3 linked regions of the Homo sapiens genome follow. The protein of the gene in region 1 purifies or fractionates together with the protein of each later gene. This does not show direct contact. Each region holds a gene or a part of one and is shown in the gene's direction. Other genes may lie near its edges.

Evidence for each region. Proteins that work in one complex are often made in the same cells at the same time.
Region 2: the proteins of KLHL29 (region 1) and RALGAPA2 purify together in Homo sapiens (affinity purification with mass spectrometry, with the first as the bait; one large-scale study listed by BioGRID). This does not show direct contact.
Region 3: the proteins of KLHL29 (region 1) and DNAJB12 purify together in Homo sapiens (affinity purification with mass spectrometry, with the first as the bait; one large-scale study listed by BioGRID). This does not show direct contact.

What each region holds. Positions count from the first base shown.
Region 1 is NC_000002.12:23,643,679-23,647,178, forward strand, and holds part of KLHL29 (kelch-like protein 29), read left to right. Parts: intron 1-1,375; exon of another isoform or gene 1,376-1,404; coding exon of another isoform or gene 1,405-1,426; intron 1,427-3,500.
Region 2 is NC_000020.11:20,391,838-20,394,644, reverse strand, and holds part of RALGAPA2 (ral GTPase-activating protein subunit alpha-2), read left to right. Parts: exon of another isoform or gene 1-1,134; intron 1,135-1,391; coding exon of another isoform or gene 1,392-1,546; 3' UTR 1,547-2,807.
Region 3 is NC_000010.11:72,344,920-72,348,419, reverse strand, and holds part of DNAJB12 (dnaJ homolog subfamily B member 12), read left to right. Parts: intron 1-3,292; coding exon 3,293-3,470; intron 3,471-3,500. UniProt on the Homo sapiens protein: Acts as a co-chaperone with HSPA8/Hsc70; required to promote protein folding and trafficking, prevent aggregation of client proteins, and promote unfolded proteins to endoplasmic reticulum-associated degradation (ERAD) pathway.

The sequences.
Region 1 (3,500 bases):
GCTGGATTCCTCTGCTATAGGTTTGCCTAGCCCTTAGTGCCCCAGACAAGCCAAGTCCCTGCTCCTGCTGGATGCAGTGGGGAAGGCTGCTGGGCCACTGCCAGGTACAGGCAGTGGGGGCATAAGGGTCCATGGCAAACAGTCTGGCCCAACGGGGTGTCTACATCTCTTTTGAAAGAGGACACTAGACGGTCCCAGAAAGTATGCATCTCTGGGCACAACTTCCCAGCCTTCCCACATAAAACCCCTTGAGATGGCATTTCGGGGTGCTCTGCCTTTCGGCAGAGCAAGGAACCCCACTAGCCACTCTCCTGTCTTCTCTCCCAAGTCTCTTCCTTTGTCATTTCAAGCAATTTTCATGCCTTGTCAAGCATCCCAACAATAAAGCTCATGTCTGGATCTCTGTTGGGTTTAATTCCCAATCTGACTGAGCCCTAACTGCCTTTGTTTTGGAAATCAGCACTAGTTTTAAATGACAAAATTGTAGAAAATTACATCTAAATTCTGGTAAACTCTTGCTTTAAGATCTTTTTTAAAAAAATGACTAAATTGATTTTTTCTTTGCATTGTTTTGGTTAAGCTCTGTCTCCCTTTAAAAAAAAAAAAAGAAAGAAAGAAACTTACTCCCAGTTCAAGTTCATGAGTTACCAACTCTGACAACTGGGCAGCGGGCATCCTACTTCCAAGGCTATGCCAAAGCCCAAGGCACCGGGTGGCATATTCTGTCCCCACATAGCCCCTCTGGGCTAATGCAAGATCTTGCTGGCTTGCCACGTTCCAGGCACGCATCTAGGAAAAGGAGCTGTTTTGTGCAAAAAGGTAACTAGCTGAGAAAGGACTGGAGTCCCTAGTCTGGGGCTCAGCACCAAGCTGGGATCTGCCCCACCAAAGCTGCTGGGTGCAGGCAGCTAAACATTGTCAGCCCTGAGCCCATGAGATCAGAAAGACACAGGTGGCGGGGACAGGACCCTGCAGGACTTCTGTGCCCACTGGGTCAATGACCATTGCAGAGCTGTTCCTGTAACCTCTGTGCAAGGACCTGAGGGTGTGAACCATCCTCTGTGGTGGTCCTGAGCCAATGGAAGGGAGGGGACAAGAAATAGGGGCCCTGCTAAGATTCCCTCTACCAGGCCCCACTGGGCAGACCGAGGGCCAGGTGTGAGGGCCAGGGATGGGGTGGGCCTAGAAAGTGTCCTCAGCCCTGCCTTCTGGTGAGCCAGCGGGACCCACCAGCTCTAGCCAGTGACAACAACTGACCGGTCCATCACCCTGATTTCCAGAGGTTGCCAGCACACTGGCTCTTTCCTCGAAATTCCATGTAACTCGCTTCTCTATTTACGGCCTCATCAGCTGATGGAGCCCCTTATATTTGCAGGGAAGAAAGAGTGACGCACGCGCCTACAAATGCCTCCAAACTCAAGCCTGGGTGGGTTTTTTCTTTTTTTAATATATAAGTAATTTCTCTTTTCATTTCTAATCTTAAAAGCCTTTATTGCTGAAGCTATAATTTGTCTGTCAGATCTAATGTCAAACAACTGCATATTTTTTAAAATAAGAAACCCGAATTTTGAAACTAAATCTTTGAAACTTGCCATGTGAGAGTCGTGTTCCTGACAGGACCAGGTGGGCTTGGATCTGGGTCACTTTTAATTTTGCCCCTAGGGATTTTACATCTCTGAAGCCCAATTGATTTCACACTCCTAAATGACAGACAGCTGGCTCCAGGCAGGAACAGGAGGCTCTGCGTGATGGCGTCAACACAAGTCAGAACTCCACTTTAGAAAAAAAAAAGAACTTTCCTTTTCTCCTGTTCTCTGTTTGAAACCTTGCCCAGCATTATAATAAGATCCACCATGCAATGCCTTGAGATCTAGCTCGTTAAAGTCCCCGATATTCCCTGCTATTGTTTGACGTGACAACCTGGCCTCTCCCGGGGTTGAGTAATTATGGGGAGATTCCCCTCCATGAAGAACAGGTCTTGCCAGCCAGAGGGATGGGCCACTGGTATTTTTAGACTTCATTAGTGCCCAGATTTAAAATTTCACATTTTGTTTCTTGTAATTATCTTCTGATCGACTGAGCTCAAATTTCAGTTGGGGCCCTATTAGTCTGCCTTTCCAAAAAGGGCGTTGGGACTTTAATTTAAAACTTAACCAGTTGAAAAATAAAGGTGGCGTGGAAATGCTTTTTGATTTGCAGTAGGTCAAGCGATTGTCTCTCATCTGTGACTAGAGAAGCCAGCTTGTGTGCCATTCACTTTAATGAGTGTTATTTAAATGCATTGAGCACATATAGATTTTCTTAAGAAACTTACAAGACAAATCTTTCTTTCTCTAAGAACAATTTGGGGGTGGGAGCAAGCTGTAGGATTTTTTTTTTAGATGATGTATTGAAAGCTAATTAAAAATAGATTTCATGTGTGCAAAGTGATAAGGGAGGAAAAAAGAATTCGTTCCATTTGAATCCTGTTATGAAGTACCTAAGACATTTGTCTCGTTGTTGGATTGGAACCACCGAGCTAACACATGGGGAGAGGTGTGGCCAAGCTCAGGCCTCGGTGAGACCTGGAGTCAGTGTTACTACCCCAGGATCCCGTGAACCCAGCTGTGCGTGCCTGATGACAGAGCACAGGCTATGAATGCAGCTATTTCTACCCCTGCCTTCTTTGGCAAACAGTTTTTGGTGGCTCAGAGGATGTATGGGGACCTTTTAAAGCCCCAAGCTCCAGGCCTAGTGGTGAGCTGCAGAAAGGCTATTGTGTCTTCACCTGCGTGGCTGGGAGTGAAGAGTCAGGCTGCACCTGCTCCCACCTGCTTCTAGACCAGAAAGCAAAGCCCGTGTCAACCTGAGCAGGGAAAGGTATCTCTTCGGACTTCATATTTTGCAGGGGCCTAGGGTGAGGGGTCATGAGGATCCATCTACAGGCTTGTCCTCCCTTCTGGGAGGCCGTACTGGGAGAGAGGGATGGTTCAGCCCCTTCCTTTGGTTCTCCAGCTCCTCCCTTCCTATTCTGGCACTGGACTTCCACCTCATGGCACACCATTCATCCTCGCTGCTGCATTCATCCCTGTCTTCACAAGTAACAGTGATGAGATCTTGTGAAAATACTTTGAGGCACAGGGAATAGCTGTGTGACTGGGACAAGCCTCCTCACTTCTCTAAGCCTCTTTCCTCATCTTTAAAGTGGGGGTGACAGTACCACCCTCACAGGGCCTCAGGGAGGATTGAGTGAGATTGCGGACATGTCCGTACATAGCACTGTGCCTGCTTACCCCAAAAGCAGCTCTGGCTATTGCCTCTGGTCCAGGGTCTAGAGAGTTCAGCAGAGAAGGAGGCTAGGGAAGGGGCAGAAGGCCAGGCCCTCCCCAGCGCAGAGGAGATGGAAGAAGCCCATGCTTGTCCACAGGGCTGGCAATCCCTGGTCAAGCCATTTAACTTAGGGATGGGGACCCCTTCCCTAAAAGGGAGGTGGGATGCATCCCTTTTCTGTCAGGAGGACT
Region 2 (2,807 bases), on another chromosome or scaffold:
GGTGTTTTTTTTTTGAGACTGGGTCTCACTTTGTCACCTAAGCTGGAGTGCAGTGAAGCCATCACTGCAGCCTTGACCTCCCAGGCTCAAAATCCTCTCACCTCAGCCTCCCAAGTAGCTGGGACTACAGGTGCGCACCACCATGCCTGGATAAGTTTTGCAATGTTTTTGTAGAGACGGGGTTTCACTGTGTTTCCCAGGCTGGTCTGGAACTCCTGGGCTGAAGCGATCCGCCCACCGCGCCCGGCTGCAGCCTGTTTTAAAGATGAGAATAGTGAGCCTTCTCTGTATGCCCGACCTGACTGAGCCTAGAAGAAGGGAGGCAACCATGAAGCCCCTGGACTCTGAAAGTACTGAATTTCAGGACACCCTGAGCCAGGCTGCCTCCATAGGTCCAAGCACGTTTGCAAGTATTGATTTTGGAAACTCCTCCTAGAAACAATAAGGGAAGGTCAGAGAATGAAAAAAGATGCGTCTGTGAATAAAATAACTGACTTAAATTAATTTCAAATGCCAATAATAATAATAATTTCAAAGGCCAAAGCCCTGCAAGTGAATCACGCAGGGAGGAAGATGTGGAAACTCTGCTTCTGAGGTTGGTTCCCAGCAGAGGTCATGCAGGAAACTTGGGGCATAATACAACAGGGTTTAAAAATACACTACGAGGGGAAGGGTGATGAAATGATCCTCTCGCTCGCAGAACGGTGCTAGGGGAGACCCAGCTCCACCCGCAACAGTGGCTTGGTGTTGCAGCAGGCATTCTTGTATTCCTCTGAGCACACCGACAGCAGCCCTGGGGAAGCGGGGGGTGCAGATGTGCAGGTTTTAATTTTATTCCTTTTCCCTCCAGTGATGAACAGCTGTATGCTCATCTGGACTCATTCAGACAAGCAATTTAGGACTGACCTCTAGTCTTAGACCCTTTGGGGAATAATCGAGTTGTAACTCATTGTGTAGAATATCGATATGTAAACACGTGGAGATTCCAGGAACACCGCCAGGGATCTGCAGAGCGGCCTCTGAAGTTTCACGGGCTTTTCCATTGACTCCAGCCACTGCTTCTTCAGTGGCTCTTCCTCCCTTTCACTGTGACCAGATGCCTTTTCTCTTCATTCTTTACTTATGAATTGGACAGTAAGTCTGAATTAATTTCACAAGATTCATAGCTTCTTTTATGCTGCAGAAAAGCCCAGGGCAAAGAATAAGAAGAAAGACATTCATGTGTTTATTCATTCAACAAACATCTTTGCCGGCATAGCGTGGGAGGAGGTCACCAGACCCTTCTCCTGGGAGTTTCCCTCCCTTCTGAGTGCCACAGATCCTCCCTGAAATGTGTGGCCGTAGAGCCGCCGTTGCCTCCATGACTTAGCAGTTCTCTGCTTCCTTTGCAGGGGCCCTGGCCTCCAGTCTGAGTGCTGACCTCGAAGAGCCCCTGAGTGAGGAGGAGACAGAACACCCTCTCCTGCCTCTGCCCCGAGCCACTAAACCCAGAATCTCCAGGAAATTTCGTTGCTGTACTAGTGCCCTCAGCAGGTCTTCCCATTAGTGGACTTCTGAAGCCCATGGTGAATCCCACTACCGTGTCTCAGATGGGACTCAAACTAGGCTGTATCATCTTGTCCTGAAACCTCACAAACCTTGGACTTCCAAAGAAGAAAAGAAAAAGTCACCAAAAACCAGAGATGAACCCACTGACACGTGGGCACTGGTGTGGCTGCTCTGGGCAGATGACAGCAGGAAAAGATTCTGCGCTTTCAGGGAGGGGGCAGAGGGCAGCTTGCTTCTGCACCCCAAGTTGTTTCTTCTCATTTATGAACCCAAGCATGATTCACAAAGGGGCTGGCAAAACAATTGTCTAATTGAGGAATCTGATCTGCATTGATTTTGCTAGTTCCTTTTATGTTAGGATTTATGGTTTACTCAAAAATTTCATCATCATGGAAATTGGCTTTCCCCGGGGTCTTTTGCCCAGGAGAAGTTTTACCTCAGTTGTCCAGTGTTTTCCCACATGGTACCTGACGCCCGCTAACTAAGCAGAGGCTCTCCTCACCACGCAGAGGCGCTTCAGGTCATGACAGTGATGCCCCTATCTTAGAACACTCAGAAGATTCCAGAAATACAGGGTCCTGTCCTTGCATAAGTTCCTGCAGGACAGGAAGTGTCCCAAGGCTCAAAACAACACAGACCACATCCACACAAAAGGCGCATGCCGGCTTCAGGCGCTAGGCTGAGACGGGTACCCCCCGAATGGCCTTGTGCCTCCAAAAGCCTCACGCTGCAACTTTGCTGCTCCTGTCTGTTGCCCAGAGAGGCCTCACACAGGCCTCAGAAATGTTTCTTGTCACACAAAGCTTTTGGTAGCCGATTCCAAGCGAGGGATTTAATCCTTACATTTTTGCCCATTTGGCTCCAAGGAAGGCTTATTAGACCTGTTTTTTTGTTGTTGTTGTTTTTTTTTCTTAAAAACAAAATGAATGAATGAATGAAAAGAGAAGCAATGGTGAGCCCTCTCCTGCTGGGGCGCCCTGGGTGGGCCTTGCCCGTCCTGCAGCAGAGAAATCAGTCAGCAGCGAAGAGCTGCTGGCGCAGGCCCCAGGCTGTGTCCTGGACCCTTGACCTGCCTCAGAGCTAGAGGTTTGCTCCACCCCGCACTTCACTTGGGAAGTAAATCCAAGAAGCTTACCAGAGTCCATCGCCACTGCGCAGGCTTTGTTCTCACAGCGGCCAGGTACAGAGCAACGCCCTGCAGTGGGAAGGGACAGCAGCACGAGAGACGCAGCCCCTAACTCAGGGCTTATGATGGGTGG
Region 3 (3,500 bases), on another chromosome or scaffold:
ATCCAGATGCCTGTTTTCCCAGCTGGTCAGCTTGTCAGAGGCTTTAGGATTTTACTACCCAGGGCGCTGGGGCCCAGGCCTGACTGAGGTTTCGTGCCTGGAATAAATGGACACAGGGACCTGCTGCCAGAGACTTGGGCCCTTCCTCATTTAATCTGCAGGAACCACAGGCTTGTTTTTGCTTGCTTTTGTTTTTTTGAGATGGAGTCTTGCTCTGTTGCCCAGGCTGGAGTGCAGTGGCACAATCTCAGTTCACTGCAACCTCTGCCTCCCGGGTTCAAGCGATTCTGTGCCTCAGCCTCCCGAGTAGCTGGGATTACAGGCGCCTGCCACCACGCCGGCTAATTTTTGTATTTTTAGTAGAGACGGGGTTTCACCATGCTGGCCAGGCTGGTCTCAAACTCCTGACCTCAGGCGATCTGCCCGCCTCAGCCTCCCAGAGTGCTGGGATTACAGGTGTGAGCCACCATGCCTGGTGGGCTTGGTTGTTTTTGTTTTTGTTTTTCTGAGACAGAGTCTCATTCTATTGCCCAGGCTGGAGTGCAATGGCATGATTTCGGCTCATTGCAACCTCCGCCTCCCAGATTCAAGCCATCCTGCTGCCTCAGCCTCCCTAGTAGCTGGGATTACAAGCGCCCACCACCATGTTCGGCTAATTTTTGTATTTTAGTAGAGACGGGGTTTCACCATGTTGGCCAGGCTGGTCTTGAACTCCTGACCTTGTGATTCGCCCGCCTCGGCCTCCCAAAGTGTTGGGATTACAGGCGTGAGCCACAGCGCCCAGCCGGGCTTGGTTTTCAATAGCCATGATGCTGCCGAGGGTGATAGTTAATGTCCTGTATAGACTCCAGACATTGAAGAGGACATTTGGCATGGCCAACCACTTGCATTAGAAAAATGTGAAAAATAGCAAGTTGTGAGCACAGCAGATACTTCTTTTGGTCTCCTACCATCTGTGTCCCCCTTGGGCAAACTCATTTCCCCCATTCCTCTTTACAGCTAAGCAAAGGCCTCCAGGAAGGCTTCCTGACTGATCCCACCTGAAACAGAGGGTCCTGCTAAGCGGGGTCCCCTTTGCAGGGTACTTTTCCCAGCTTGGCACTCAACATGCCAAGTCTGTTAAACTCACTACTTTGAGATCTTAAAAATCTGAAGGGTTGACTGGGCACAGTGGCTCATGCCTGTAATCCCAGCACTTTGGGAGGCCAAGGCAGGCGGATCACTTGAGGTCAGGAGTTCGAAACCAGCCTGGCCAACATGGTGAAACCTCATCTCTATTAAAAATACAATTAGCCGGCGTGGTGGTGTGCACCTGTAATTCCAGCTACTTAGGAGGCTGAGGCGGGAGAATCGCTTGAAACCGGGAGGCAGAGGTTGCAGTGAGCTGAGATCATGCCATTGCACTCCAGCCTGGGCAACAGAGTGAGACTCCGTCTCAAAAAAGAAAAAAAAAAAAAACCAATGGTAAAAATAGGGAGTAGTGCAGTGGACTGAATATTTTACTTATTCAAAATGTGGTGCAATGCAAACATATTTGCAGATTTGAATGAGTTCAGTAGAAAAAAATGGATTCATAAGTTGGATTCATAAAAGCAAAAAGCAGAGTAAAACCAAATACACTGAAAGAAATAGCAATTAAAGTAGTATTAAATGAACTCTAGCAAGGCACGGTGGCTCATGCCTGTAATCCCAGCACTTTGGGAACCCGAGGTGGGCAGATCACTTGAGGTCAGGAGTTCGAGACCAGCCTGGCCAACATGGTGAAACCCCATCTCTACTAAAAATACAAAAATTAGGCCGGGCACGGTGGCTCACACCTGTAATCCCAGCACTTCGGGAGGCCGAGATGGGTGGATTGCTTGAGGTCAGGAGTTCAAGACCAGTCTGGCCAACGTGTTGATATCCCATCTCTACTAAAATACAAAAATTAGCTGGGCATGGTGCTGGGCGCCTGTAATCCCAGCTACTAGGGAGGCTGAGGCGGGAGAATTGCTTGAACCCAGGAGGCGGAGGTTGCAGTGAGCTAAGATCATGCCACTGCACTCCAGCCTGGGCAACAGAGCAAGACTCCGTGTCAAAAAAAAAAAAATTAGCCAGGCGTGGTGGCACGTGCCTGTAGTACCAGCTACTCAGGAGGCTGAGGCATGAGAATCACTTGAACCTGGGAGGTAGAGGTTGTAGTGAGCTGAGATCGCACCACTGCACTCCAGCCTGGGCAACAGAGTGAGACTCTATCTCAAATAAACAAACAAATAAAAAAAAATAACTCTAAATAAAGTACTATAGGGTTTATTAATAAAACCAAGTGTGCTTTTGGAAGACTATCAGAATATCAGAATTCTGCCTAAATTTATTAAGAAAAGAGATATATGTATAAGTATACTATCTGAAAAATAAAGCAATTACTACAGATTTATCCATGAATTATGTAGAATTTTATGTCAATTTTTATTAACAAAATTAATTTTGTTCATGTAAAACGAAAAAGACCTCTATCCTGCCTACTTTTTTTTTTTTTTTTTTTTTGAGACAGATCCTTGCTCTGTCGCCCAGGCTGGAGTGCAGTGGCACAATCTTGCTAATCTCCACCTCCTGGGTTCAAGCAATTCTCATGCCTCAGCCTCTCAAGTCTCTCGAGTAGCTGGGATTACAGGCGCCCACCACTATCTCCAGCTAAATGTCTTTTGGGGTTTTTTTTTTTGTATTTTTAGTAGAGATGGAGTTTCACCATGTTGGCCGGGCTGGTCACAAACTCCTGATCTCAGGTGATCCGCCCGCCTCAGCCTCCCAAAGTGCTGGGATTACAGGCGTGAGCCACTGTGCCCGGATTTTTTTTTTTTTTTTTTTTTTGAGACAGGGTCTCACTCTGTCACCCAGGCTGGACTGCAGTGGCACCATCTTGGCTCACTGCAACCTCTGCCTCCCTAGTAGCTGGAATTACAGGCGCCCGCCACCACATCTGGCTAATTTTTTAATTTTTAGTACAGACGGGATTTCACCACATTGGCCAGGCTGGTCTCAAACTCCTGACCTCAGGTGATCTGCCTGCCTCAGCCTCCCAAAATGCTGGGATTACAGGTGTGAACCACCACGTCCGGCCTGTCCTGCCTACTCTTAAGGACTATGGCTTTCAAGAGAGCAGATGACTGTCCCCCCAGCACCCACAGGCCTAATCAGGGCAGGAGCTGGTGGCTTTGCTGGGAGGGGAAGTGAGTGGGAAGCAGCGGGCCGCTCGGCGAGGCACGCAGCCTGCTTGAGCAGGAGCTCTGAATGGTTTCCTTGCCTTGCACAGCCCTGATTGAGTCCCTCAACCAGAAACCACAGACTGCCGGTGACCAACCCCCACCCACAGACACAACCCATGCCACCCACAGGAAAGCAGGTGGGACCGATGCCCCCTCGGCCAACGGTGAAGCTGGAGGAGAGAGCACCAAAGGCTACACTGCAGAACAGGTTGCAGCTGTGAAAAGGTAGATGGGTGGGCAGGGGCTGGAGCCTGG